2 separate regions of the Homo sapiens genome follow, and region 1 is linked to region 2. The links come from fine-mapping of genetic effects on gene expression. A gene starts in region 2. The other region holds a variant in brackets. All regions are shown on one strand. Distances are from middle to middle.

Region 1 (15,679 bases), 27 kb before region 2:
AGCTATGAGGCCTCACTCAAGCAAGCTGCTTAACCTCTCTGGGACTTGGTTTCCCTATCTAAAAAAGAAAGTGGATACTGGTACCTAATTCATAGAATGGCTGAAGAGTCGATGAGCTAAAGAAAGCAAGTGCTTAGCACCATGCCTGGCACACAGTAAGTGCTCAGTGTTTTGCTGCCGCTGTGATTACTACCGCTGCTTCACCTCACTGAGCTGATCTTCAGCTTCCTCCTCCGGAAAATGAAGGAAGGCACCTCCCAGGCACAGTTACGGTGTAGACCCGAGATCCCTGCATGAGGGCCAGGCGTGCTACAGCCTCTGAGCAGTGGGGACTCAGGGAAAGTCAGGTGGCTGAGATGTGTCTCCAGCTCCCTGCATGCTGCTCCAGGCCCTTCTGAGGCTGGGTCTCCATCCTCTCACCCGCCCACCTCCCTGTATTCTCCCAAGAACAGCTCTGAACCCTCCACCATTACCCACCCTCCCACAGGCCAAGAGGAGGAGCTGGCATCATGGACCCCATGCCTTGGGCAGGCTGGCTGGCTGGATTTCTTATTTTATGACCCTACTCCCCCTCCCTTCCATCTTCTTCAACAAACACTGTACTCTGGAGCTGAGCTTCTCTTTCAGAAGCCCAGATTATTGGAGGCAGCAGGGAAACCCTCAGAGACGTTCAAAGTGGAGAGACCTCCAGTGAAGGTGGAAGCATTTGCAGGGCCATTAAAAGACTGTTAGGAGCGATTTTTCTCTCTGCTGGCAAGTGGCAAAAGCAGAGCCCAAAGAACAAAACCCAGACCTGGGAAAGCAGAGCAGGGGAAGAGAAACTGAACAAGCCTTGCTGAACCATGCAGAAGTTGATGGAGGGAAAAAACCCAATACGCGCCCGCACACACACACGCACACACACACATGCACACACACACACATACACACACGCATAACAAAGAGGAGAAATTCTTAGCCTGCAGCAGTTGGTAGCATTATGTAAAATCCCAAGCCCACAAAAATATCATTTGGATGATAAAAAGTTAAATTTAGCTAAGTACAGAGTGACTAATACTATGAGGGAGAGGCAGCACCCCCAGTTGCCTGGAGCTGATACAGCTGGCTTTTAGAAACTTTTGACAAGTAACCAGGGCCTTGTGCAGCACAGAATAACAGATTATGTAATAGGAGGCACCACCATCAGCAATACAAAACACAGCACAAGCGTGCAGCCTTCTCCAAGGGAGGGAACAGTTGGGTTCTGGTTTGAGTGGCTCCAGTAGGACCTTGCTTGGGCCATGGGAACCTGGATATTCCAGAGGCATCCAGGAGCACAGCCAGGCTTTGGAAGGGTTTATGTGAATGGGTCTGCAAAGATCTTTTCCCAGGGTGGTTGCCGGGGACTGTTACTTTGGTGGCCTTCAATGAGCCATGCCCTCGTGGAGTCCCCTCCCTTTTAATCTAGCCTGGCCTTGTGGCCTGTTTTAGCCAACAGTATGGGATGGAAGTAACACTGTGCCAGGTTTGTATCTCTAAGCTTAGGGAGGCCTGGCTAAGAATTGAAAGCAGGATGCAAACAGGTATTTCTGCACCAATGTTCACAGCAGCAATCTTCACAATAGCCAAAAGGTGGGCACAACCCAGGCATCCACAAACAGATGAACAGATAAACAAAATGTAGTCTATCTACATGATGGAATGTTAGCCTTAAAAAAGACAGACATTCTGGCCAGGAGTGGTGGTTCACATGTGTAGTCCCAGTGCTTCAGGAGGCCAAGGTAAGAGGATCACTTGAGGCCAGGAGTCCAAGACCAGCCTGGGCAACATAGAGAAACCCCATCTCTACAAAAAATACAAAAATTAGCCAGGAGCAGTGGCACATTCCTGCGTCTCAGCTACTCAGGAGGCCGAAGCAGGAGAATTGCTTGAGCCCAGGAGGTTGAGGCTGCAGTAAGCCATGATTATGTCACTGCACTCTAGCCTGGTGACAGGGCAAGACCTTGTTTCAAAAAAAAAAAAAAAAAAAAGCAGGAGAGGAGTGAGGAGAATGAAGTGGTGGTGGCAGCCTGGATGCTTCTGCATTTGAACTCTAGGGAAGCTGAAGCCAGGTAAGAAGCCAACCACTTGTACCTTGCCCAACGGGTGATGAGGAGGGGAACGGATGTTCCAGCCAGCAGCCCTAGCAGATACAGCCAAGCACCAGTACCATCTCACCAGCCACAGGAGTGCAGCCAGCCACCTTGTCAATGGGTCCCCCACCCCAAGTAGTCAAGTTGTTCCAGCTGACACCAGTGGCACAGGGATGAGCTAACCTTACCACTGGGCCCTGCCCAAATTGCCACACTGTGAGCAAATAAATAAAATGGCATTTTGCATCACTATGTTTGGACGTACTCTGTTAAGCAGCAATAGGTAACTGATGGTGGCCAAGCTCTCTAGCGGGTTTGCAGGAAGTTCTACTTCCATCATAAGACTCATGAAGACCTTTTGTATCCTCACATATGAGAGTTGCTGAGAGACGTTAGTGCTTAAATGAGTCTTAGGAAGAGAGTAGTCTTCCACTCCCAATATCCCAATGGAGTGAATGCTGAAATGAAGCCGGTGCTGAGTTTCAAACAGCGGTCGTGAGGCTGGGGAATTTCTCCAGTGATCCTACGGAGTAAGCTGGCCATCAGATGATCAACTCAAGCTGTCACTTAATTACACGACTCTCTATCTGTGCAGAGCAGGGGTTTGCACACTGTGGACAGAGATATGGATGGGATTCCCTGAGTGCAGTGAAGTGATCATTGGCATGGGATTGAGACCAGAGTTCTGGCTGCTGACTCTGGGTAAGTCAGCTCGGCTCACTGGGCCTCTGTTTCCCCATCTGTAGAGTGAGGAGGCTGGGCTTCATGACCTCTGAAAGGGTTCTCAGTTCAGCTCCAACATTCTACAATCCTATGATTTGGACAGAAGGGAATACTGACCTGTAATCCAAAGCCCTGCATCAAGTCCAATGACTTGCATCTAGGTTTGCAAGGCAGACAGAAGTGCTCACTGGGCTCCTCAGACGTGTGCCCCTGGAGCCCTGCTCTGCTCTCTGTGCCCTTCATGGATTTGTTCATTCATTGTTCAATATCTCACTATGACAGACTCTGGCATGGTCCAATTTCCTCTCCCTAAATCATATGTTTAGCCCCCTGGACTCTAGGTGAGGCTACGGGACTAGTTATATGAGTAGGGGAGGTCCACCACTTCAAAGCCTGGCCCCCAGAATGCCCCATGCAATCTCCTATGCTCCCTCTTTCTCTGCTTACCAGCCAGCTGACTGCACAGATTCACTGGAGAACTCCAGGGGAGCCCCAAGGGATGGGAGAGCCACAGTGTGAAAGGATCCTGGGTCCCCAATTCACCACATGGAGGCCACTCACAGAGCATGCAATTCAACTAAGACAAGAGTGGGGATAAGCCTTTATTGTGATAAGCCACTGAGACTAGAGAATTGTCTAGCAGTTAGCATTACTTAACTAATACATTCACCAAATTGATACTAATTGTCAGATATGTAGGAGATACACAGGAGAATTAGGCTGAGGTCTAATCTTAGCCTTCTTAGAACTACCAGTCTAGGTGACAGTTCAGGGAGATTGGATACAGACCAGTTCTGTACTCTGCGATCATGATGGGAACCTGCTCAAGCTCTATCCATACTGCCTGCTTCCAAAAACCTTACAACATAGGCTCACCACATTTTCCCACCAAACATGAGATGAGCAAAGAAAGAAAGCAACCAAACAGGAGGGAGAAAATCTCTATCAAGGCTCTAAATTGAGAACAATCTAAAAGCAAATGAGTAAAATCTTAGCTGTGTGCTTCCTGGTAGGCAAAGCAAAGAGGGAAATATGCTGGGTCACAAAGCTCTTCCCAATAGTGGAAAACATTAGTTCATGATGAGAAACAGACATTGTGCTTGGGAAGAGTTCTGAGGGGAATGTCCACGGGGCCAGTGTGTGAGGGAATTTGTGCCTGGGAGGAGGAAGCAAGAGGAAACCAAGCTAGCCTGGAAAGCTGTCAGCCTCCAGGGTGTACGGACAGCTTTGCAGCCCCGCCTGCGGCCTGACTGGCTCTTAACGGAGAGCTCCTCAGAGTAATTCTTCATCCTCGTTAATGTCAACACGGCAGCACCATGATAATGATGGAAAATATTTACATACCATACCACTGATGGGTTGTTTAGACCATCTGGCTACTGGACATGGTAAGTATTGTCGAACACATGGCCCTTCCGCAAATACTGTGCCTTAGTGCTGATGGAGGCCAGGCTGCAGGGACGTGAAACAGTGTCACTCGGCTGTGTCCGTGTGGCCTGTGTCCACTGTCAGCTTTAGTCACCTGCAGGTCAGGGGCAGAGATCTCCAGCTCCCACTCCCAGATGTATCTGGGCTCAGCGTTGATGACAATAGCCTAACTATTCCCTTTACCAAGGGCCTCTTCAGGACTCAAGTGATCCAACAAGACTTAACGCAGCAAGACAGCTCTGATTCTGTGGCCACCTGGGGGATTTCTCCAATGATCTCCTGGGACTGCTGAGAATGCTCAGAGGAAAATTCAGCACAGTTCATTTGTGTTTGAAGCAGCTTCTGCCTAAGCTTTGTCATGCTCGGGAGGTAGGGACAAGGATTAGGTAGCACAACTAAAGGCTGTGCTCTATCTAGAAGCATAGAGGATGGTGATTTTTTTTTTTTTTTTTTTTGAGACAGAGTCTTGCTCTGTCACCCAGGCTGGAGTGCAGTGGAACCATCTTGGCTCACTGCAAGCTCCGCCTCCCAGCTTCACAACATTCTCCTGCCTCAGCCTCCCAAATAGCTGGGACTACAGGCACCCGCCACCACGCCTGGCTAATTTTTTGTATTTTTTAGTAGAGACAGGGTTTCACCGTGTTGGCCAGGATGGTCTTGATCTCCTGACCTCGTGATCCGCCCGCCTCGGCCTCCCAAAGTGCTGGGATTACAGGCGTGAGCCACCGCGCCTGGCTGAGGATGTGATCTTAATCACACCTAAATGAAAATTTCTTCGTTCCATCCATGTGGCTCCATGAGTACTAATATCAGGCTGAATACAGAGGCTTTTTTTCTGGGTCAATGCTAAATATTTCTTCTTTTTCTTTTCTTTCTTTTTTTTTTTTTGAGTTTGGGGTGTTGAGTGGCTTGTTTTATTATTATTTTCTTAATTTTAGTAAGCAAGAAAAAGTTCTGTTGGGAGCCCGTTCAAAAGTAGCAATTTTCTTAATGGGAAGCATACGCTTGCCACCCACGTGAGGAGGCTGTGTCAGCTCAGCAACCATACTGCCCTGTGAGTATGGTGAAGTCGTGTTACCTACTTGACAACCAGTGAGTCAAAGGGAAACTCATCACAGGTGCCTGTATGGCCTGCCGGGGTTTTGCTGCATAGCCGACAAGGGCTTTCTGAGGGCACACCTGCAGCAAAGGCCTGGCTTTGGTTTTGTCAAATATGAACCCGCAGATTTAAGGTCACCTTATAACTAACACCCTCTAAGATTTAAAATGCCCCAACCAGAGCATTCAGGACCTGAGTTCACGGACTGGGTTCAAGAGCCAGTTTTGACTCCAACTGGCTGTGAGCTTCGACGGCCCCTCACCTCCTGGAATCTGTGTTTTGGCTGTGAAAGGAGGGGTAAGACAACAGGTGTCTAAGCAGCATTCTGGTCTAATAGTCACAGGTTGGCTGGGAGGCACTGGCCCAGGGCAGCAGCCTCCTTGTCAAGAGTGCCATAGGAGTTCCTTGGTCTTCTATAGGACTAGTGCCTTTCTCTCTGCAAGTAGAGTGATGACCACAGACCTCTCATATGGAGAGTGGATCATGGAAGAGTCAGAGCCCTCAGCCAGATGTGGCATAAAGCTAATTCACTGTCAGTCACACCCTGGCCAGTGAGAGTGAGCTCACATCCACATCCTCTAAAGGCACTGAGATGTAGTGGCACATGTTTCCTGAGAGTAATTACAGTCTGGGATGATGACCTTTGCTGGTACAACACCTAGCACCTTAGGGCAGGATGGCTGTGCAGAGGCCACACAATACCTCTGCAAAGCTCCTCCCTGCTGGTCAGACACCACAGCCCCAGCAGGGACAACCTCTCTGAGCACCTACTCTGAGCCACCATGTCATTCTAAACAAACATCTGCTCTGCTCACCTGCTCTTTTTGCAAAAGTTATCTGAGCCCCTGGGGAAAATGGAAAAGCATAACGAAGACCACACCCAGATCACTGGGTGCTTCACTTGAACCAGCCTCCAAAACATCCGGCAGCAGGCCAGAGACACACTTCTTGTTTAAACACAGAGAAATGAGACAGCCCCAGGTCTCCCAAGTTAGAGAATAGAATCTTCTCAGAACACACAGCTGCTGCAGGCCCAGCCCAGGCTCCTTCTCTGGGGAGCTGACTCTGGCTCCAGCCCTCAGAGGCCTCTCTGCTGACTCCCAAACCCCAGTGAGCAGGTCAGCGCCAGGCCTGGCCAAGCTCTCACCGGTTCAAGGAGAAATGAGAACATGGCTAATGGGCCAAGCTGTTCAAAGAGCTCCAGTTTGGTGGGGTATGGTGGCACACACCTGCGATCCCAACACTTTACGAGGCCGAGATAGAAGGATCTCTTGAACTCAGGAGTTTGAGGCTGCAGTAGGACATGATCATGCCCTCCAGCCTGGGCAACAGAACAAGACCGTGTGTCAAAACAAACAAACAAAAATCAAAAAGCTCCACTTAGTTTCTTTATTCTTAGATCTTTCCTACTTCTTAGTGTTCCTTTTGTTCATGAGATGATAGCTACAGTGAATTATACCTTTTTTTGTGTTTGTGGTTAAATACGCATAACATAACAATTACCATAATAACTTTTTTATTTTTATTTTATTTTATTTGTTTTTTGAGACAGGGTCTCACTCTGTCATCCAGGCTGGAGTGCAGGGGCATGATTACAGCTCATTGCAACCTTGAATTCCTGGCTCAAACAAACCTCCTGCCTCAGCCTCCTGAGTAGGTGGGACTACAGGCACGCACCACTACATCTGACTTTAACATAATTTTTTTTTAGTAGAGGAAAGGTCTATGTTGTCCAGGGTGGTCTCTAACTCCTGGCCTCAAGCAATCCTCCCGCCTCTGCCTCTTGAGTCCCTGAGATTACAGGCTTGGACTACCATGCCCAGCCCATGTCAACCTTTTGTTTGTTTGTTTTTGAAACAGGGTTTCGCTCTGTCACCCAGGCTGGAGTACAGTGGCATGATCTTGGCTCACTGCAACGTCTGCCTCCCAGGCTCAAGTGATCCTCCCACCTCAGCCTCACAAGTATTATAGTTGGGACTACAGGCACACACCGCCATGCCCATCTAACACGTCAACCATTTTTAAGTGCACAATCATCACTGCCATCTACCTCCAGAACTTCTTCATCTTCCCAAACTGAACTCTGTACCTATCAAATACTAACTCTCCATTCCTCCTGCCCCCAGCTCCCTGGGGAATCTCTTTAGAAATGATGTCAATTGGCCTGGTGCGGTGGCTCATGCCTGTAATCCCAGCACTTTAGGAGGCTAAGGCAGGCAGATCGTCTGAGGTCGGGAGTTCGAGACCAGCCTGGCCAACATGGTGAAACCCCGTCCCTACTAAAATACAAAAATTAGCCGGGCGTGGTGACACACGCCTGTAGTCCCAGCTACTCAGGAGGCTGAGGCAGGAGAATCGCTTGAACCTGGGAGGCGGAGGTTGCAGTGAGCCAAGATCGTGTCATTGCACTCCAACCTGGGTGACAGAACAAGGCTCCGTCTCCAAAAAAAAGAAGAAAGAAAGAAATGACGTCAACTTACAGATCTGGGAAATCCAAGTCGCAAGCCTGTTGATAGGCCTCCTGGTCACATCTGAGCTCCCCCAAAAACATAACCTCCCTGAAGGTTAGCTTCTGGTGTTTCTCAGATACTCGGTGGTAAACAAGCTGACAGAGAAGGGGCAAGGTAGCTGCTGCCCCCACCCTTTACCAGGAACATATCTTCCAGACCACAACCTGACTACAGGAATCCAAAAACCCAAGAGCCCCTCAGTCGTGTGCAAGCTGGCAGCTAATGGGAATGAACAGTCTTAACTGGCTATGCCAGGAACTACCCTACAGCCTGCCCTTTGCGGTAGAAAAGGCTCTCACACAGAAGGAGTTTTCTCCAGATTTTTATTTTACTTAAAAGCTCTTCCTTGCCTGGGGTTTTGAGGTTGAAAACCACTGCCTCGCACTCACACATTGTAAGTGGGAGTGTAAATTGGTACTACCTTTATGGAGAGCAATTTAGCAATTGCTAACAAAAATAAAAGAAAAACACTCCTTGACCCAGCAATTCTACTTCTGGAAATTTATTCTACAGACATGAGAGTATATTTGCATGAAAACCTACTTATTGAGATGCCTGCTACAGCACTGTTTGCTTCCCATCTTCTGCTCTTACAATCTAAAACCCCATCAACAGGGACCTGGTTTAACACATGATGGTCCACCCATGAGCAGAATACTAAGCCCACCATTACAAGAACTGAACAACTCTACATGAGCCAACAGAGAACCATCTGCAGGATTTATGTATTGTGAAGTCAAAAAAGCAGATGCACAACAATAGGCAGCCATTTGTGTTTAGCTTTGTTTTTAAGTAATATAGGCCAGGCAAGGTTGATCACACCTATAATCCCAACACTCTAGGAGGCCGAGGTGAGAGGACTGCTTGAAGCCAGGAGTTTGAGACCAGCCTAGCCAACATAGCAAGACTCCATGTCTACAAAAATAAAAAAATTAGCCAGGTGCAGTTGCACGTGCCTCTAGTCCCAGCTACTCAAGAGGCTGAGGCAGGAGGACTGCTTGAGCCCAGGAGTTTGAGGCTGCAGTGAGCTATGATCACACCACTGCTCTCTAGCCTGGGTAACAGAGCAAACCCTCTCTCTCTCAAAAAAAACAAAAAAAAATTAAATTAAATTAAATTTTTAGGCCGGGAGCATTGGCTCATGCCTATAATCCCCACACTTTGGGAGGCTGAGACAGGTGGATCAATTGAGGCCAGGAGTTGGAGATCAGTCTAGCCAACATGACAAAACCCCGGCTCTACTAAAAAATACAAAAATTAGCCAGGTGTAGGGGGACATTCCTGTAATCGCAGCTACTTGGGAGGCTGAGGCACAAGAATCGCCTGAACCCAGGAGGCAGAGGTTGTAGTGAGTGGAGATCGCACCACCGCACTCTACCCTGGGCAACAGAGCAAGATTCTGCCTCAAAAAAAAAAAAAAATTAAAATTTAAAATTTAAAAAGTGGCCAGGCACAGTGGCTCACACCTGTAATCCCACCACTTTGGGAGGCCGACGCGGGCAGATCATGAGGTTAGGAGATCGAGACCACCCTGGCTAACACGGTGAAACCCTATCTCTACTAAAAATACAAAAAAATTAGCCTGGCGTGGTG[G/A]CAGATGCCTGTAACCCCAGCTACTCGGGAGGCTGAGGCAGGAGAATCGCTTGGACCCAGGAGGCGGAGGTTGCAGTGAGCCCGAGATTGTGCCACTGCAGTCCAGCCTGGGCGACAGAGTGAGACTCCGTCTCAAAAAATAAAATAAAAATACAAAATATTAGCCAGGCATGGTGGTGTGCACCTGTAATTCCAGCTACTTGGGAGACTGAGGCAGGAGAATCACTTGAACCCATGAGACGGAAGCTGCAGTGAGCCAAGATCACACCACTGCACTCCAACCTGGGCAACAGAGCGAGACTCCATCTCAAAAAAAAAAATTAAAAAGTAATATACATTAATATATACAGAGAATCTCTCTGAAAGAGGACACACACACAAAACTAGCAACCATCACTGTCTCTGGGAAGGAAAACTAAGATATTGAAGACAGGGGTGGCAAGAAGTCTTTTTTATTATTATTATTATACTTTAAGTTCTAGGGTATATGCACAACGTGCAGGTTTGTTACATATGTATACATGTGCCATGTTGGTGTGCTACACCCATTAACTCGTCATTTACATTAGGTATATCTCCTAATGCTATCCCTCCCCCATCCCCCAACCCGGCAAGAAGTCTTATGTTTGCCTGTAGCTGCTTTTCACTTCGGTACCAAGTATAATGCATTACTTACTTACCCAAATAATATTTAAAATATATATGATCTTTATATTTTATTACTGAACTGTAATCTATGAGTTTGTAAGTTCCATAAGGAATGTATCTAATTTATCTTTAGAATCTTGCTAATGTCTGGTGCACTATCATGCATAGCCTTTTCAATGTTTCGTTAAAAAAATTTTTTTTATTTTGAGACAGAGTCTCGCTCTGTAGTCCAGATGGAGTGCAGCGGTGACATCACAGCTCACTGCAGCCTTGATCTCTTGGGCTCCCTTGATCCTCCTGCCTCAGCCTCCCAAGTAGCTGGGACTACAGGCATGTGTCACCATGCCCAGCTAATTTTTGTATTTTTTTTGTAGAGATGAGGTCTTGCCATGTTGCCCAGGTTGGTCTCAAACTCCTGGGCTCAAGCAATCTGCCCACCTCAACCTCCCAAATGTTAAATGTTTTTTAGTAAGTGAAAGAATGAATGAGTAAATGATTCTAAAGCACTCAAAAAACAATGTTCTTTGAATCCTAGAAAATTGTGAGTCTTGAATTGTTAGAGAAGGAAGAAGTTAGGTAGAAGCAAAAACAAATAAATAATTGATATCTGGATACAAAAAGCAGACTCAGTCATATCAAAGGATGATGCACACCACTGATGGTTCATTTAAGTTGATGCTACAGATTTAACAAGAGTTTTTAAAATTTCAATTCTAATTATTTTATGTTTTAAAATGCCAATATTTAATATTTCTTTTGGAATAGCAGAACGCAAAGAAAATGCATGGTACAGGCCAGGCGCTGTGGCTCACGCCTGTAATCCCAGCACTTTGGGAGGCCGAGGGGGGCGGATCACGAGGTCAGGAGTTTGAGACCAGCCTGACCAACAAGGTGAAACCCCGTCTCTATTAAAAATACAAAAATTAGCTGGGCGTGGTGGCAGGCACCTGTAATCCCAGCTCTCAGGAGGCTGAGGCAGGAGAATCGCTTGAACCCCAGAGGCCGAGGTTGCAGTGAGCCGAGATTACTCCACTGTACTCCAGCCTGGGCGACAGAGCGAGACTCTGTCTCAAAAAAAAAAAAAAAAATTAGGGTTTTTTTTTTTTTTTTTTTTTTTGAGATGGAGTCTCGCACTGTCACCCAGGCTGGAGCGCAGTGGCGTGATCTCGGCTCACTGCAAGCTCCGCCTCTCAGGTTCACGCCATTCTCCTGTCTCAGCCTCCGGAGTAGCTGGGACTACAGGCACCCGCCACCACGCCCAGCTAATTTTTTGTATTTTTAGTAGAGACAGGGTTTCACTGTGTTAGCCAGGATGGTCTCAATCTTCTGACCTTGTGATCCGCCTGCCTCGGCCTCCCAAAGTGCTGGGATTACAGGCTTGAGCCACCATGCCCAGCCTAGGCTCTACCTTTTAATCCTGTGACCCTCATATCCCTAAAGAATCAGAAAGAAGATCTAAAAACCAAGCAGACCCTTCAGTGAGTTGAATATAACTGCTAAGGGTTCTGCAGGGATTGATGCATATCCTTGGGTAAGCTTGGGAATTCTTGCCCTATTAACCTCTCACTCTTGCCCTACTATTCTCCACAATCCAGTCTGGCAAGCAAGCTGACTACAACTCCCACCATTTAGAAGAGGGCCAACTTGCAGATCAGACCACCAAGCTTCAGGCGAAAAGCTGTCACAAAGCTGGAGGGCTTTAGTCCTAGGAGAACTGCACACTGACCCCTCTGGTGGTCATGCAAACCACTATGGTTAAAATAAGGCAGAAAATTAAAAGTAGCAAAACCACACTGAGTGAGTAAAGAAAAAGAACTAGGGAGGAGGGAGGATGACTTAGGAAGTATGGCCAGCATGATGGGTTCAGCCTGTGGGACAGCTGGCAGACACACATCCATCCACCCCTTCCGTGGCCTCCGAGAACAGCCTGATTCATGACATTGGAACTTCAGCTTCATCATGGTAGCCCCAGTCAGCTGAATGACTCAGCAATCCCTCAAAGACTGAATTATCTCTAGGGTTCTCTGTTGATTGAAAGAGAGGCAAGAATTGCCTTTGAGAAAGATCAGGATAATGACTGGGAAAATGTGATGAAGCTTGCATGAATGACAGCAGTGATGAAGCAGTGTCTGTTCTCTGGTTTCCAGCAGGAGCAAAAGATTTACTTCCAACAACCAGGCTCTGTTCACTGGGGTCTCGTCCAAACACTGCCCTCAGCATGGTGGTCTAGGGGATGCCAGGGCAAGGGACCACAAAGCTACAGGGAATTTCTGAGAGCCCTGCCCTTGGAGAATGCACGAATGGTTCATCCCTCCTCAAGTCACATCCATCATCCAGGATGAGTTGAGCTTGAAATAATGGACTTCCAGGCTCTGTGACAACGACTTAATGGTGCACAAATGTGTTCAAAACATTCTGGAAGAGTCCTCAGAATAACCCCACTGAGAGATGCTGAACACCCTGCATCACGCCACTTACACCGCTGCCCTCCATTTCCTGGGAGTCCAGGTCGCAGGGGACCCAGGAGGTGCTGGCAGCTGCCTGAACTGTCCGGGTGTTACTCTTGTTTCTAACCAGAAAATAAGGTCACTGGCGTGTTGATGCCCAAGCAAACAGGTGTTAGAGGTGCTCCTACCCATCAAATTCAACAATGGTTTCCACTGACGCATAGAAAAACAATGGTGTTTGCCTACTTATTTTGCAACAGGCTGCCATACTGTCTTATTCTAATTAATTTTGAGTTTGTCTACTTTGAAAACCTAAGACAACGGCTGTATCCACTCAAAACATTCATTTTGCAACCTCCTATCTGAGAGTTATGCCCTGCCTCTTTTTCTTTCTTTTTTTTTTTTTTTTTGAGACGGAGTCTCGCTCTGTCGCCCAGGCTGGAGTGCAGTGGCGTGATCTCGGCTCACGGCAACCTCTGCCTCCCGGGTTCACGCCATTCTCCTGCCTCAGCCTCCCAAGTAGCTGGGACTACAGGCGCCCGCCACCACGCCTGGCTAATTTTTTGTATTTTTAGTAGAGACGGGGTTTCACCGCGTTAGCCAGGATGGTATCAATCTCCTGACCTCGTGATCCGCCCGCCTTGGCCTCCCAAAGTGCTGGGATTACAGGCATGAGCCACCGCGCCCAGCCTGCCTCTTTTTCCTAGCCTGTTGCATTGGCTTGAATCTAGAATAAAGAACAGTACTAAAGAGAGAGAAGGCATGCTTGTCTTGCAACAGACATTAAAAGGAATGTGTCTTAGAGCAACAGTGCTTCCTAGATGTTATTTGGCCCTGGAATGCTTTTTTGATGCAATACCCAGGAGCATTCTGTGTTCCTCAAACATACTTTGGAAAATGCTACTAGAGCATTTGACTATTAAGGATAAAGTATCTGAGTGCGGTTGCTCATGCCTATAATCCTACCACTTTGGGAGGCCGAGGGGGATCACTTAAGCTCAGGCATTCAAGACCAGCCTAGTAAACATGGCGAAACCCCATCTCTACAAAAAAAAAAAAAAAAAAAAAAAAAAAAAAAAAAAAAAAAGCGGGCTCACACCTGTAGTCCCAGCTACTTAGGAGGCTGAGGTGGGAGAATCACTTGAGCACAGGAGGTGGAGGTTGCAGTGAGCTAAATCACGCCACTGCACTCCAGCCTGGGTGACAGAGCAAGACCCCGTCTCAAGTTAAAAAAAAAAAAAAAAAAAGGTGGGGGGGCAGGCGCAGTGGCTCATGCCTGTAATCTCAGCACTTTGGGAGGCTGAGGGGGGCAAATCACAAGGTCAGAAGATCGAGACCATCTTGGCTAACATGTTGAAACCCCGCCTCTACTAAAAATACAAAAAATTAGCTGGCCATAGTGGCACACGTCTGTAATCCCAGCTACTCGGGAGACTGAGGCAGGAGAATCATTTGAACCCAGAGACAGAGGTTGCAGTGAGCAAAGATCGCGCCACTGCACTCCAGCCTGGGCAATACAGTGAGACTCGATATCAAAAAAAAAAAAAAAAGATAAAGTAGCTACCGATGGGAGATATTCTTTATCATGTTGAAATATTTGCCTATCCCTCAGTCTCTACGTTTTTAAGATTAATGAGGCTGGGGCCAGTGGGCTCACGCCTGTAATCTCAGCACTTGGGAGGCCAAGAGGGCGTATCACCTGAGGTCAGGAGTTCAAGATTAGTCTGGCCAACATGGCGAAATCCCGTCTTTACTAAAAATACAAAAATTAGCCAGGTGTGGTGGTGGGCACCTGTAATTACAGCTACTCAGGAGGCTGAGGCAGAAGAATTGCTTGAACCCGGGAGGCAGAGATTGCAGTGAACCAAGATCACTGCCATTGCACTCCAGCCTGGGCAACAAAAGCGAAACTCAATCTCAAAAAAAGGAGTAATGAGGCTAGGCATGGTGGCGCACACTTGTAGTCCCAACTACTCGGCAGGCTGAGGCAGGGGAATCCCTTAAGCCCAGGAGTTCAAGGCCAGCCTGGGCAACATGGGAGTCCTGTCTCTAAAAAAATTAAATGGATAGGCCGGGCGTGGTGGCTCACGCCTGTAATCCCAGCACTTTGGGAGGCCGAGGCGGGCGGATCACGAGGTCAGGAGATCGAGACCATCCTGGCTAACACGGTGAAACCCCATCTCTACTAAAAATACAAAAAAAATTAGCTGGGCATGGTGGCGGGTGCCTGTAGTCTCAGCTACTCAGGAGGCTGAGGCAGAAGAATGGCGTGAACCCGGGAGGCGGAGCTTGCAGTGAGCCGAGATTGCGCCACTGCACTCCAGCCTGGGCAACAGAGAGACTCCGTCTCAAGAAAAAAAAAAAATTAAATGGATAGTGAACTTTATCAAATGCTTTTCTGGCATCAACTGAAAGCACAGTAGTTGTTTTATTTGTATATTTTTCTCTTTTTTCTTTTAGTAGATCTCCTAATATTTATGTTTCTGAGGCTGGCCCACAACCCAGCATAATGAGTCCTGTGCTGGGTACTTGTACTGGGGGAACACAGAGACACAGAAAAATGCATAGAGTTCTTGCCTACAGAGGAAACAGAGGGGAGAGGAACACGGGGAAAACAACACACACACATGAACATGCACACTCCTGCATACCATCTGAATGGCAGGCTAGTACTTGTGAATTTTGTTTTGCGTTTTTTTTTTTTTGAGATGAGGTCTTGCTCTGTTGCCCAAGCTGGAGTGCAGTGGTACGATCATAGCTCACTGCAGCCACAAACTCCTGGGCTCAAGTGATCCTCCCGCCTTGGCCTCCCAAGTGCTGGGACTACAGGTACACACCACCATACCCAGCTAATTTTTAAAATTTTCTGCAGAGATGGGGTCTCGATAAGTCGCCCAGGCCAGTAGTACTTGTGAATTAATGTGTCACACACAGGGCACAGTGAGGACCCCAGGGAACCACATATGAATCATGCTAATCCCAGAGGGCTTCCAGGAGATGGCACAGAGCATTTGGGGACAGGCTGGAAATGAGGGCCTATGGATTTCAGTCCTGCCTTGTGTGGGACGGAAGGGCACACTTTCCTGGCCCACAATTATCTCAGCAGTAAAACAGTAGAGA
Region 2 (15,679 bases):
GAACTCACAATGCTCTGGTGAGTCACCCAAGGCTGGGAACTGAAGTCAAACTAATACTCTCTATCACAGTACAGGACAGGAGCTCAGCTGCATACTAATGGCAAGAATCCGCTAAATGCATCCCTTGCTACTCCCAGCAGCAAATGCATAAGCTATTTCACACTCAAATATAAATTAGTGAGCTATTTTCCTTGCTGGGTTAATACAAATCGTGCTCTGGACCAATTAAGTAAGCCACTTCAAAACTTTGCTTCAGCGTATTGGAAAATGTCCCGCTTAGGGGAAGAATGAAGTCTCGAGTGATGCATGCCCAACTGATGGCGAAATAGGTGAGAGTGCTTTCAGAATTCTTGAGGATTTTGTTATTAATGGTGTTTTAGTGTTGGGTTCTTAAACACATCAAACAAATTTCCTTTAAACTAGTAGTTCCTGACTGCCATGGGGAAGGCTGCAGGCCTCCCACCTCCCAGATGGTTCAACCACAATAAACGTTTGGCCTGTCAGATGCACAACACTGATGAACTAATTGAAATATGCTGCAACAAGCAAACCCAAAATAAATGTAAAATAATTGTTTCCTTACACGATAACCCGCTGAAGTGCCTCCACGTCTGGCCACCCCTGCTGATTGAATGTTCCCCCTGCTCCGTGAGCCTCACTTATGTGTGGTTTTCAAAGGATTTAAATGCTTTTTTCCAGTGTGATTACCCACATGGGAAAAATTCTAATTGCAAAAAATGTTGAGTTTTTCTCCCTCTTATGAAAAAAAAAAAAAAGCAAGTGAAAAGTCAACTGTTATAAAGTACCAAGGAAAGCACTTAAATGGGCCCTTCAGTGTGAGAGGAAGAATGTCCTCCTGTTCTCCAGAGCACCGTCGCCAAGCCAGTGTTAAGCACGCATCCACACCTGTGGGGAAGCCCTGCCTCTCAGACAACCTCACGCCACTGATGAAAGCTGGGAATAGCCACCTATTTCTACCCTGACACACCCATCCCTATCCCCCTCCCCCCTCCCTCGATCCCTCCCTCCAAGGGGCTGTCTAGAGAGACAGCAGAGGGTGGAGCCAGCAGCACCCATAACAAGCTCTCCCACTGGCTCACCACCTCATGCAGGACACTGGTGCCCAGTGAGCCCTCCCTAGGGGGCTGGGAAGCCCAAGGGCCTGATTCTAATCCCAGGAGGACAACAGAAGCAAAGTGCACAGCCCTGCTCCACAGCACAGCCTGTGAGTCAGACTTGGAAGGGAAGCCCCCCAGCTGCCAAAAGAGAAAATTCAGGCCCTCCCCAGGAGCCACCTCTCAAAAGGGGAAATAAACAGCTCTGCAGAGGAGAAACAGTAATAATCCGTATGACGTACGTACGAACTCTTAAGAGGGCACACAACAGGCAAAAGACTTGGGAAAGCTTCCTCTGAGAGAGCCCAGGCATAAGAAGGCCACAATTTGAGGCATGGGGGCCCCAGGAACCCCCCATCTTGGCCTGAAACACCTCCGTAAGAGGATTATTCCTTTGGGAGAAGGATTGGTCTCAGCTCCTAAGAAAGGCCAAGTCTATTGCAGGGCTGCCGCCAGAACCCACTGCATGAAAGTACAGGGTCCCTCCTACCTGTAGACTTGAGCAGAGAGAGATGGGCACCATTCTGCTGGCAGCAGCCCTTCTAGAAGAAGCTACAGCAGGGCTGAGGGAGGACAGCTTGTCTTTCTGTAGCACCTAAGACAAGCAAACACAAGAATCTGCCCACAGCCTCATCCCGCAGCTCCAGTCTTCATCCATTAAGTACCATCAGCATTGTGAGGTGCCCTGAGCTAGGCTGGATACACCGTGGGGGCTGACATGATGCCAAAGGTGGCAGATCCTCACTATCCATGGATTCCATATTTGTGAATTACCCTAGTCACTAAAATTTATCTGTAACCCCAAAATCAATGCTCATGGTGCTTTCAAATTCATTTTCAAATTTGTGCAAATTGGCAAAAAATTTGAGTTGCCTGATGGCACATTCCCTGCTGAGGTTGAACGAGGGGACATCCTCTATCTTCCCATCTCAGCTCTCCTAATGGAAACACGTGTCCTTTTTGTGGTCTGTGCAGTGCCACATTTTTGGCACTTGTGTGCTTTGTGTTGGTGATTTTGCTGTTTGGAATGGCCCCCAATCACAGTGCTGAGGTGCAGTCTAGTTCTTGGGTGCAAGATGATTATGATGTGCAGAGAAAATCTCTTGTGTTAGAGAAGCTTCATTCAGACATGAGTCACAGTGTTGATGGCCAGGAGTTTAATGTTAATGAATCAATGATACATATTAAATAGGGTGTCTTTTTTGTTGTTGTTTTGAGACAGAGTCTCACTCTGTCGCCAGGCCAGAGTGCAGGGGCACGATCTCGGCTCACTGCAACCTCCACCTCCTGGGTTCAAGCAATTCTCCTGCCTTAGCCTCCTGAGTAGCTGGGATTACAGATGGACACCACCAAACCCAGCTAATTTTTGTATTTTTAGTAGAGATGGGGTTTCACCATGTTGGCCAGGATGGTCTCGATCTCTTGACCTCATTATCTGCCCACCTCGGCCTCCCAAAGTGCTAGGATTACAGGCATGAGCCACTGTGCCCAGCCAATTTTTGTATTTTTAGTAGACACAGGGTTTCACCATGTTGGCCAGTCTGGTCTCGAACTCCTGACCTCAGGTAATCCACCCGCCTCGGCCTCCCAAAGTGCTGGGATTATAGGCATGAGCCACCATGCCCGATCTCTTTTAACAGAAACATATATAAAATAAGATTACATATGGATTGGTTAAAGAAAATATTGTCCCCGCAGGCTCAAAGGAGCCTAACCCTGTGTTTTCCCTAGGAGCAGTGGTTCAGTGTTCACTAACTCAGTGTTTGAAGAGGGACTTTATAGAACATAACTATGTTAGCCAGCGTGGTGCACAAGTCTGTAGTCCCAGCTACTCAGGAGGCTGAGGCAGGAGGATCATTGGGCCCAGGAGTTTGAAGCTGCAGTGAGCAATGATTGCACCACTGCACTCCAGCCTGGGAGACAGAGAGAGACCCTGTCACAAAAAATAAAAAAAGAAGAACCTAACTATGGCCAACAATATGAATCAAATAACTATGCATACATGTATGCATAGTCAGGATATACTTTCCTCAGACAGAGCTATTCCACCCTACATTCATGTGCTCCTAAGGCTGCAGGTTGGCATGTCCACACCCAATAGGGAGTTTGAGCTGTCAGCTTCTGCTCCAAGGCTGGAATCAGCCTTGAGGTCTCTTGGGTCCTGCTGCTGCTCTGATAACACTCTGCCTTTTCCCTGGACCCATGACTCCCGCTGACGTCCCTGATCATGACCTCTGATCTTTCTGACTAGCCAGGTCTTAATAAGACCCCTTTCCACAATAGAGATAAGGGACTTCAGAGGCAATGGCACTCAAGGAAAAGCTTTATGAAGAATGGGGAACTTCAACAAGGAGAGTGTGAAACTGATTTTTCCATGCTCTCTCTCCAAGGTTGTCTTGGGTTTTTGATTTGTCTGTTACCGGAAACCTGCCTGTTGGTTAATCTCCTTTGTGTCCTCTAGCAAGGGCAGTTGTTAATATAAGTAATTTGGCCAGCCACAATGGCTCACACCTCAAGAGGACTGCTTGAACCTGGGAGTTCCAGACCAGTCTGGGCAACATAGCAAGACGTCGTCTCTACTAAAAATATCGTTCTATCATAAAGATACAGGCACACGTATGTTCATTGCAGCACTATTCACAATAGCAAAGACATGGAATCAACCTAAATGCCCCATCAATGGTAGACTGGAAAAGAAAATGTGGTATATATACACATAGTATAGAATACTATACAGTCATAAAAAAGAATGAGATCATGTCCTTTGCAGGAACATGGATGAAACTGGAGGCCATTATTCTTAGCAAACTAATGAAAGAACAGAAAACCAAACACCACAAGTTCTTACTTATAAGTGGGAGCTAAAGGTGAGAACACACGGACACATAGAGGGGGGTAACACACACTGGGACTTATTGGAGGGTGGAGGGTGGGAGGAGGGAGAGGATCAGGAAAAATAACTAATGGGTACTAGGTTTAGTACCTGAGTGATGAAATGATCTGTATAACAAGCCCTCATGACACAAGTCTACCGACACAACAAACCTGTGCTTGTACCCCTGAACTTAAAAGTTAACAGCTGGGCGTGGTGGCTCATGTCTGTAATACCAGCACTTTGGGAGGCCAAGGTGGGCGGATCACTGGAGGTCAGGAGTTCGAGACCAGCCTGGCCAACATGGCAAAACCCATCTCTACTAAAAATACAAAAATTAGCCCGGTGTGGTGGTGGGCGCCTGTAATCCCAGCTACCCAGGAGGCTGAGGCAGGAGAATCGCTTGAATCTGGGAGGCAGAGGTTGCAGTGAGCCAAGATCACATCATTGCACTGCAGCCTGGGCAACAAGAGCGAAATTCCATCTAAAAATAATAATAATTTTTAAAAAATACAATAAAAGTTTAAAAAAAAAAAAGAGTAAGCAAATGCCAGCCTGCCCCTCCTAACAGCACTCGTCGTGTCTTTGACCATAAATGTTTAGCAGAGGTTTGTCCTGGTGTTGCTAGGTTGGGCGTGAGGAGGTCAATGCTCCATACTCATTTCACAGGAAACAAGGACCCATGTACAGGGCTGTCACTTTTAAAAAAGAGCATTAAACCGGTAATCAGGGACTTGGGTTCCAGGCTAGAAGAGAGGTCTTGTGCAAATCACTTCTATTCTGCCAGCCTCTGCCTCTCATCCTCAACAGGGTGCAGGCCCTCCCAGCTCCAGTCTTCTGGGACCCTCCATCAAAGATACAGAGGATTTGAAAAAGGCATCACCAGGTTCCCCACTTTAATATCTGGACCAATTCTCTCCTTTCCCACCAGAAGACCTGTTCTGCAGGGCCATTGTGATGACCAGAGATTTTAGACTCTAAGTCCTACACACCTTTACAGTTGCTGTGGACTATCAAAACTACCCATTCTTCAAGCCCCCTTCAAGTCCCACTTCTTTCAGGAAGTCAACCCTGACTGCCTTACCCAGAAAGGGCATCTCCTCCTCTGAACTCTACCTTCAACAACTCTTATCACACATACCCTTTGTTCCCCATGGACTCATCTCCCTAACCACACTGTGAGTTAGTGTGTTAGGTACAATGTTACCTTTTTATTTTTATTTATTTTTTCTTTTCTCACTCTGCTGCCCAGGCTGGAGTGCAGTGGCACAATCATAACTCACTGCAGCCTGAAACTCCTAGGCTAAAGGGATCCTCCCATCTCAGCTACAGGCGCACACCACCACGCCCAGCTAGCAATGTTACTTACTATATTTAATTCACTTATCCATACAGTTTTCCAGAAGCCTTTTGTGATGACTTTATAAAGAATATATATAGAGAGATTTATACATAAACACACACACAGAAAAAGAGACAGTTCAGGAAAGCAGCAATAAATATGCTGATGTTGAGGGTAATATAGTTGCTAGACAGAATATCACATTGTGTGCTGAGCAGCCTGGAAGCCAAGGAGAAGAGGAGAAACATAATCAGTTGGAAAGACAGTGTGGTATAGAAAGAGCCACACATAGTGTGGCAAAGAAGCAGAACTGAGTGCAAATCCAGGGAAACTTGGGCAAGTTAGTTGACCTCTCTGTGTGTCTTAACTTCTTTCTCTGGGAAAAAGGGGAAGAATACAACCTACCCTGCACAGTGTGTCAGGGAGGCCCAAGCACACTGCATGGTGCATAGTATACAAACAAAACGTGTTTTCCTTCCCCACTTTCCTTTTCATTATCAAAGGAGAAAGCAACCTAGTTTCCTGCGGGAAGGCAAAGTTTGCCTGGCCCTAAATTCTAAAAGAAAATTTTAATATGGGTCACTGTAAGAAGCCTTTAGAAAGGGGAAAATGCCTCAGATTATGGTTTTAGAGTAAACCAGATGAGGATTTGCCATGGCTCTATTTGATAACATTCCAGGGTACCAGTAAAAGCTTAATAAACATCAACCAAATGACCTACAGAGAAGCTGTGCAAAGACCACTTAGCCGCATCTGTGTTTGGAGGCAGGGAGTCCTGTTAAGCAGCTTTCAGGGTGACTATCTGCAAAGGGATTGATCTCATCTAAGCGAAGTTGAGAACTGGCGTACAATGGCTCATTTTGGATTGACTCTGCGGTCATAAGCAGTGGCTCCTCCTGCCCATGGCCAAAGACACTGGAGCAATACCACTACGCTTACATTAAAGAGCACACGGCCCTGGCATTTTTTCCAAAAACAGCAAGGCAGTGATCTCAAAGTACCAGACGTTTCCTCTGCTAATCTCTACAGATAACTGCACATCCTCTATGACTGGTCTTCTCGAAGACCAAGTTGGAAAGACTTTAACTAGATGGGCTGGTTAGGAGAGCATCTATCTGCTTGGTGTTAAAACAGGCCTCTAGACACGGAGGAAGGCAACGGGTCCCCATAACAGAGAATGTATAAGCAATCAACTCTGGACAAGAAGGGCTCTCAGTGGTGATCTAGGCCAACCCTCTCACTATTTTCCTAAGTACCTTACTGTGCAGCAAAGCATTGGGGATGCAGAGAAACGTGATACAGCACTAACCGCCCAGGAGCTCACAGTCTAGTGGGGGGCACGTGTAAACAGATAAGGGCCATTCTGTGTGGCAAGCAAATCAGACTAGGGTGGTTCGAAAATCAGAAGAGGGACCAATTCCACCTGCGAAGGCCAAGACTGGGTCTCAACCAGTGAAGAGTTGAAGGCACCTGGGGAGAGGGAGGGCATGGGAGCACCATGCCTTTGAAAGCCTCTAGGTAGCCTGAGAGGACTGCAGCTTAGGGTATGAATGAAATGGTAGGAGAGGAGGCAGAAAAGGTAGACAGGACCCAGATCCCAGGGGGCCTTAGATACGCAGAGGAATTCTTTCAGATTCCATAAGGTGCAACCAAAACCAAGAGAAACCAAGTGACTTAGTTAAGCTCCTGTAGCAAGTTATGGGAAAAGCCAGGCCTGGAACCCCAGTCTCTCGACTCCCGCAGTCCACTTCTCTCCCCTGCTGCCTCCCACGCCTGAGCAGCTGGGGAAGACCAGGAGAGAGAATGGCCCATTCAACACTCACTACCCAGAGAATCTGGAGTCTTTGCCTGGCCATCTTCAGGGCAGAGGATGTACTGTCCTGTTCACTTGGCAAGCCACTCCTTACAAGAAAAACAGCCCTTCCTAACTCATTGTGTTTCTCTCTGCAGTGGGAGAGGGCTGGAAGTCCATTCCAACCACAGAATACAGTCCCTTCATGGAAGGAAAGTAATTTAACAGCAACAGTCCAGGAATCAGACAAGCTATGGTCCCAGAGGCAAGCGTTGGAGGGGCCTTCTGCTCCACGGAGACACTGACTCCACGCAGGGTACTGACCAGGGCAGGAGACCAGAGATGAATCAACTCCAGCCCGGGAGCTCACCGTCCAGCAGGGGAGATAAGGCAGATGGAAAAGTAACTATAAAATAAGGCAGACGGTGATAAGAGTTACACAGGAGATACAGATAGCAGGCAGTGGGAGTTCAGAGCAGAGAGGAGTCTGGGGGATGGATGTTAGGGGAGATTCAGATGAAGGGGAGCACTTACTGCCTTCCCTCCAGAAGTGGGGGGTCTATCCTAGCAGCTCTGGTCACTCCCAGGTGGAGGCCGGGGAGAGAGCTGGTTGTGGACAAAGACAGATGTTCCAGTGAGGTCTCCTTTGAAGAATCCCGACTCTGGGTGGGGGAGGCAGGTAGGCCGGGGTGTTTGGAGAGGCACCCAGCCCACACTTCAGTGGGAGGGAGAGGAGTGCAGGATGTCTCTGCAGGAGCAAGTCGGTGGAAAGGGGACAAGCCTGGAGGACTTGCCTTGAAATGACATTTGCACCGCGCGCACTATGTTCACCTGGAGTGGCCGTTTGGGATTTCTTGCGGGGAGGCAGTGCACACTGGGGCGGGGGACACTGAACTTTCCCTCTCCCCAAGGCCCCCCGATCAGCCCTGCCACGGATAAGAAAGGATTCGGGGTGGGAAGAAGACAGAGCCGGCACCCCATTACCACACGAAGGGGGCACTGAGGATGGAGACGGGCCACACCCCAACCCTGGGCCCCCGACAAGCAGAGGCCACGGCCCGGGCCTGGGGACGTTCAGCTGGAGGCGGGAAGCAGAGAAGGCGGGCCGGGGGCTCACCTCCGCTTCCTCCCGATAGCCCCTTCCTCGCCCTGGCACCGGCACTGCCCACGCCTGCCCCCCGACCGCTATGACACTTGTCCCTGGCGGGGGTCCCCCACGCGGTCGCGACCGACGGAAATTCGGAAATCAGCGTTTCGGGCACGGATCCAGGGCCGGCGACTCACTGAGGCCAGGCTCGGGCGGTCTCCCGAGCGGGGCTCCCGTACGCCACACCCTCCTCCCTGCCCGGGTCTCCGCTCCCTCCTCCAGCCCCCGGCGGGCTGGAGGCTCGGCGGGCGGGCGGGCCGGGGCCTCTCTGGGAGCCGCCGCCCAGATCCCCAGGTCCCCGGCCAGCGCCCGGCACTGCGGGACTCACCGCGGGCCTGCGGAGCGGCCGCCCGGACGCACTCACCCCGCTCGGCGCGGCCGCGGGCTCTGTCCTCTTCGGGGCCCCGGCTGGGCCGCCGCCACCTCACGCCGCCTCACGGGGAGCGCCCGCCCCGCGGCCCCGGCCCGGCCGGCTGCGCCCCGCGCGCCCCCGCCGCCTGCTGGCCCCGGGCGAGCGGCAGAGCCCCGGCGGGCATTGCTCCCGAGCGTCGCAGGCGGGCGGCGGCGGCGCACGTGCTGGCGGGCGGCTCTCGCTGAGGCGGCCGCGAGCTGAGAAGGAAGCGCCGGGCGGGCGGCCGGGGCCGGCTGGACAGCTCTACGCCGCGGCGCCGCGGTGCCCCGCGCACCCCAGCGGCCGCTGCTGCCCGCGCGCGCCGGGCCGGGCTCGCATTCCCTCAGTGGCGGCGGCGCCTCCTCAGGCCGCGCGGGGGAGCGGCGGCGGCGGCGGCGGGGGCGCGTCCCTGCGGAGTCTCGGCCCGGCCCCGCCGCCTCCGCCGGAAGAAACCTCTCCGACTCGGGCAGCCCGCCTGGTTCCTCAGACCTGCCGCGGCGACCCCGCTCCTCCCCGGCTCGCCCGTGTCCTCAGGGCCCGGGACTGGACTCGGGGGCGGCGGCGCGGATCCCCGCCCCGGGCTCCTCGCCCACCGTCCGCAGCAGCCGAGCGCACTCGGGGGCGGGAACCGGCCGACTTGCGGCCACTGTGACTCTTAAAACAGCCTCATTTTAAAAAATGAAGTTTCTTAGGAGCGAAATGGTAAACCAGGGAGGGCAGAGCGCAGCGGGCAGCTCACCGAAGCCCAGCCCCGGGCGCGGTGCTCGCCACACGGTGGGTCCGCGCTCTCCCCTCAGGACGCCCGGGCCGCGGCCCAGGGAACGGCAGAGCCGGGAGCGCAGCCGTCCCGGTCCCCACCTCAGGGAGTAGCTGGAAGAGGATCACGAACAGTTTAATCCGGATGATCTGGCACGACAGGGCTCTCCAATGGGAAGAGCCCCCGGTGGGGGAGCGCCTGGTGACATTCCTTAAAAACATGAGGTGTTTGTTAGGTTGAGCCAGGGTGGACTTGTTTGGCAAAATCTGAAGTCATGGAACTAAAGAGAGCACACCTAAAACTTAGTGATGTGTGACCCATCCCTACTTGTCACCTTATAAGGCTGAGGAGACGGCGGTGCTCCCCTGGAGGAGAGAGGACAAGCTAAAATTAAGGCGGCCTAGATGACTCCAGATGAAGCCGGGGAGGCCGAGCCCCTGACAGCTGCTCACCTCCTGGGGTCACGGCAGAACCCAACTGAACGGGCCAGGAAGGCCATCGTTCCCGACTCGCCTCCAGGTGCCCCTGACCATGACCACGCAGAGGAGGACCAAGGCGTACCACCATCACCTAGAACGCTTCAGCTCCTTCCCTCCACCAAGAGGTGCCCTAGGATCCATCCAGAAAGATCTGCGGAGCCCACAGAGTCCCAACGGGAACTGTGCTCCTGGATGGACGCCCCTTAACCCATAACTCAAGGACTTCTCTATGCCTGGGACTTAAAATCACCAACAACCCGCTCCTGCAGCCAGCTAGCAGAAATAAACACACAAAGGCCACACGCCAGTTCACAGCCACAAGTATTTATTGAGTGCCTGTAGTGCAAGAAAGAGAGATGGTCCCTGCTCCCGCGGAGCTTACAGCTTCACGACTCCAGCATCTGGCTAGATTCAGAAACAACTGCAGCAAGCACTTGTCTACCCACCAGCAGCACTGTAAAAAGCACATTTCTCACATTATCGGTCACTGTTACAGTGAAATTGTTAGATGTAAAAATTATCCTTGAAATCTGTAGTCATAGAGATGACATGGTACATAATGTCCAGCAAATGCACATTTATGGCTTGATTCCTCACATATCTGAGGGGTCTATGGAAATAAAGTACAAATCAGGCAGAAAAGACTTAGTAACACAGTTCCTAAGAATACTGGGGTAGTAGTTTATTATCAAACTACCATAGAGCTCTTGGCAGGGCAGGAAATTATTTCCAGCAAAATTTGTGCAATATAGTGGATTTAATCAAACCTGCAACTGTCAACCATACATGGTCCCTCATGACAGGTAAATATAATCTACCTGTCTGAATGGTAAAAGGCTACAGGTGTGCATTTATTTTTTAAAGCTTCTTAAAGACTCATAGCACAAGTGGCACATTGAAATCTAGTGAAAACTTGAGATAATCTAAAAATTAAAGTGACAAAAGTGTCTAATTTTACTACATATGTAGGTGCAGAGTTCAGATTTCAAGTAGCGTCCAGCAAAGCACGTGGCTTTTCTGGGCGAGAAGGGGATAGCTTTTGGTTGGCTATCACAGACTCCACCTACATCTCCTAACACCCACTGGCAGGCACTTCCTGTGCATGGTTCTGCCCACAAGCTGTCACCTTTAGATGAAACATTTGAAGGGGCAATTATTTGGAGGATACTGGCAATAATTTTTAGAAAAACAACCTATATTTATACCAAATAACCCCCAAGTCACCAATTAAGACCAAAGTGCTTTCTGAACTTACACGTGACAGGTTATCAAATTTGTTAAATTTTTGGTGGCTAAAAAACCAAACACACCAGAGGGATGCTTAATTTAAACTCCAAAAAAGCTCATTTTTTTGCAAAGCGTGAAGAGAACATCTTAGACCACCTAACAAATGTCAGTCCAAGGCAGTTTTTAGGTCAACTGCTTCGGACATAATCTACTTTTTTATTTCAGAAAGTATGCTACCTCAAGGCTGGGCGCAGTGGCTCACGCCTGTAATCCCAACACTATGGGAGGCCAAGGCAGGCAGATCATTTGGGGTCAGAAGTTCAAGACCAGGATGGCCAACATGGTGAGAACCCCGTCTCTACCGAAAATACAAAAATTAACCAGGCGTGGTATGCACCTGTAATCCCACCTACACGGGAGGCTGAGGCAGGAGAATAGCTTGAACCCAGGAGACAGGTTGCAGTGAGCCAGTATCACACCACTGCACTCCAGCCTGGGCAACAGAACTAGAGACTCCATCTCAAAAAAAAAAAAAAAAAAAAAAAAGGATGCTACCTCAAAAACCTACTTAACTCAATGAATCTGAAATATAATATTTCTTGAGCACTTACTAAGCACCAGGCACTTTACAAAATCTCCCTTAATGAAAGGAGTTTTCTTATTTCATCTTATAGCTGAGAAAGGCAGGCCTGTGCCAGGATGTGACCCAGGTCTCTCTGGCTCCAAGTCTCTCCTTTCTTGTCCCCTGAGCCCAGCTCTGCACAACCCTAGCACGGCCACTTTAGCTACATCTGTTGCTTCAGTTGGAAAAGTCCTTCAGTTGCAAAGACCATTTCCATACCTCAGGAGTAGCTCCTGCAAACAGAGGCTTAGCAAGGGAAAGGAAGGGGGCAGATCCAGGCATCAGGGGAGAGTTCACTTTCTATTTGCATTTTAAAAGGCACTTCCCAGAGGTGGCAGATTTGCTTAGGGTTTTTTTTTTTTTTTTCTTTTTAAACTATTAATACCTGCAGCAAAGCCCCAAGCCAACAACAAAAATAGTTTATACCCGGGGATAATAGCTGCTATTTAGAATTGCCATCTTTCCTGCTTTTAGGTGGAGTGTTTTTTCAGTTGAGTGTTCATAAGATAAGCATTACCGAAGAGAAAGACAGCAGAAAGAACTTTCCTTGGTATCCCTCTTCACAGCTATGAAGAAAAAAGAATACATTTTTTAGAAATAAGTGACTGATAGCTCCAATCTATTACACACTTCAAATATCAAAGCATATGCTGAGAGAGAGGCGCAGAAGATGTTTTGATGGAGGTTAACGCCTTTTTTGGAATAAGCCAATATAGGCTACTAAGAAGATAATTCCTTGGCAAGATAAAACTATCATCTCTTCTGAAATGGCATTTTTTAATTCTTAAGAATGTAGTAGATTTTACAATAAAAGTAGGGAACAAGGAAATATCCTAACAATTTTCAAGTTAGTTTTTAATGTCATATCCAGGAACACATTAAAGGTGGTCTTACTAGGTCTTGACACAAGCTGTACTGGAGCTTGATTAAAATGAACATTTTCTTTACCAAGACTAGATTTTTTTTTTCTAAAGGCTAGAAAACCAAGAATAAAGAATACCAAGAATAGGCCGGGTGTGGTGGCTCATGCCTGTAATCCCAGCACTTTGAGGGGCCAAGGCAGGCGGATCACATGAGTTCAGGAGTTTGAGACCAGCCTGGCCAATATGGTGAAACACCATCTCTACTAAAAAAAAAAAAAAGATATATACATACACACACACACATAGACATATACACACACACAAAATTAGCCGGGCGTGGTGGCAGATGCCTGTAATCCCAGCTACCCAGCAGGCTGAGGCAGGAGAATCGCTTGAACCCGGGAGGCAGAGGTTGCAGTGAGCTGAGATCATGCCATTGCACTCCAGCCTGGGCAACAAGGGCAAAACTCCATCTAAAAAAATAAATAAATAAAATAAAATAAAAATAAAAAACAAGAATAAAGGCACTTGATTCTAATTATAAGTAATTTTGATTAGCCTGAAGTCTTCAAAAGTTGCAGAGTAGGGAGCAAAGGTTCAACTGCACTGTCAGACAGGCCACCCTCCTTGCTGAGAAGGGAGCAGGGCTGTGGACCCCTGGCCTGGGGACCAGCCAGGTGAAGGGTGCTCAAAGGTCATTTGAGAGCCTGCTTGGAATAACTGGGATGGCTTGGTTCATTCTAACTACTTATTATTAAGAGCCACATAAAGAGGAAAAGCTCAAAAGCAAACCAAAATTTAAAACCTGAGCATGTTTAGTACGAATCCATTTTGAAAGTTTGGATGAGTCTGTTTATCAACATGTACCGAGCTGGAATATGTGGGGCACTGCGTTCTGATTGGCTACCAAAAACTAAGTAGTTACACAGCTCCAACTTAACCAGCAGTCCCAACACAAACCTGCCAATGCTCCTGGATCAGAGGAGAGACTCCTGCCCACGTGCTACTTCTGAGAGCCAGCGGCTACCACAGAGGCAGTGGGCTGGAGCCCTCTGCAAGGCCGAGGGGAAGGCACCAGGCTCCATCCGGACACACTCCCTGTCCATTAACAAATACAGTAGATTGTGATGATCTAAAGTCTAGTGTTCTTACAGCACCTACAGTGGAAATATTTTCCTTTTGGCCAGGGTGAAGGAGTGGAAAGGGGTGAACATATCCAGATGACAACTATGACGGACAGCTGAAGCCATGCACACTAAGAAAACCAGGCTGCCCTCTTAATCCCTCACGGGGTGGTGGCTTGTATTTCAAAGGGTTTATCTGTCCATTTATTGTCCAGGGTGGGACACAAGTTAATTCAGAACAATGGGCAGAGAGCTACTCTGAGAGCCCTCCAGAGAGGGCTCTCCAATTGTTTAACTTTTTTAGAAAAGATAAAATTAGAGAATTACAATCTCTCTTTTTTCTCTTACAGACAATAAAGTTTAAAGAAAATGAGTTATATTCATGTAGTTTTCAAAGCTTTCCAAGAGTCCATTATTACTATTCTGATATTCACTCTAAGACACGTTTCAAATACGAATTGCATTATCATTTTTTAAAAACCTCAACACAACTGAAATCCAAGGTACACTGTAATTGTTTATGTATTCAGCATGTACTAGTCTATCATTATGGAAGCTATTAAGCTTTATTTTTTAAAAACTGAATTGTATTTACAATGTAGAACAAGTCTATAAAATTGATGTGCAGTTAATTGTAAAAGGATAACACTATTTGTTTAGAAACAAGCTGCTTCCTCTGTTTATATTTCCTTATTCTTGATATAAATTGGAGACAGATACTATTTAAAAATAATGCTTTTTAAATAGTAAAATATACAAGAGATTCCTGAGCATAACAAAAATATCTTGAAAATATGTGGCCATTTGAAGTATAAAATAGCAAGTGTAAGAATAGCATGATTGTAAAACTACTGTTTGAAGGCTTATAAACAGTACAAAATAGTTTGCCTTTTCTGACTGCATAATTATACATTAGTGCAAACAAAAATGTCTCAAAATTTAATGGCTACAAATCTCAAAGATTTGCAGAGGTGCGCAAAACATGGAATTTCTTTAGCGTCATGCGAACTGAACCCAGTTCTCGATTAATCCTTTCCAAACGATCTTCCAAGGCTTCCTAGGTGAAAACAATGGGAAAAGTTTAATTAGAATTCTATACCAAGTTCTATAATCACCACCAAACTGACCTTTCTTTTAGCAAAAGAGCAAGTATAAACACTAAAATTACAATTATTTTGCTTTCTACACGAAACATCTTATGATTTCTTTTAAACTGGACAATATGAATTAGCTTTTCAACTATTCCAAATAACTGCTGTACTTTAAAATATTCTCAATATGTTTGACACATTGAGTATATGGAAATTCTAGTAATAGCAATACAACCAACTGGAAGAGGATAATTCTTTGGCTCTGCTGAAGTGAGAACAGTACAAGAGGAGCCTAGGAGGTGCTTCACACATTTCACCAGAAGAAATGGACACATTTGATCAGTGCTGCATCCCACACATACATAGATCAAATAACTTTCTTCTCACCAAAATTTCTAAGTTAAAAAGGAAAAAAAAAAAACACTGAAGGATACTTTTCTTAAAAAAAAAAATAGATTTCACAATGAATTAACAATTGCTATTTTAAAATAAACAATATTACTGTTAAATAATACCTGGACTATATATCATTATACATACTTCTGTGTTTTTGTTGAGACAGGGTCTTGCTCTGTCACCCAAAGCTGAACTGCAATGGCATGATCATAGCTTACTGCAGCCTCAAACTCCTGGACTCAAGCAATCCTTCCACCTTAGCCTCTCGAGTATCTGAAACTACAGGCAGGCACCACCACACCTGGCTGATTTTAAACATTTTTTTTTTTGCAGAGACAAGATCTCACTATGTCACCCAGGCTGGTCTCGAACTCCTGGCCTCAAGTGATCCACCCACCTCGGCCTCCCAAAGTGCTGGGATTATAGGCATAAGCCACTATACCCAGCCTCATTTTAGTTAA

What was found.
Region 1: its variant is fine-mapped to the expression of PITPNM2 in fibroblasts (GTEx, PIP above 0.99).

The regions. Positions count from the first base shown.
Region 1 is chr12:123,114,659-123,130,337 of GRCh38, forward strand. All of the region lies in intron 1 of PITPNM2 (phosphatidylinositol transfer protein membrane associated 2), which reads right to left. Among named protein-coding and RNA genes, the nearest start is that of PITPNM2, 29 kb to the right of the region's middle. RefSeq lists enhancers at 3,768-4,581, 4,582-5,395, 12,990-13,601. The variant G/A (reference allele first, on the strand shown) is at 9,465.
Region 2 is chr12:123,142,121-123,157,799 of GRCh38, forward strand. It overlaps PITPNM2 (phosphatidylinositol transfer protein membrane associated 2), which reads right to left and starts at 8,970. Exons shown (of 26, transcript NM_020845.3): 1 at 8,633-8,970. It overlaps MPHOSPH9 (M-phase phosphoprotein 9), which reads right to left. Exons shown (of 24, transcript NM_022782.4): 24 at 12,095-14,788. The coding sequence ends at 14,687. RefSeq lists silencers at 8,524-8,613, 8,714-8,853, 8,874-9,133, 9,154-9,353.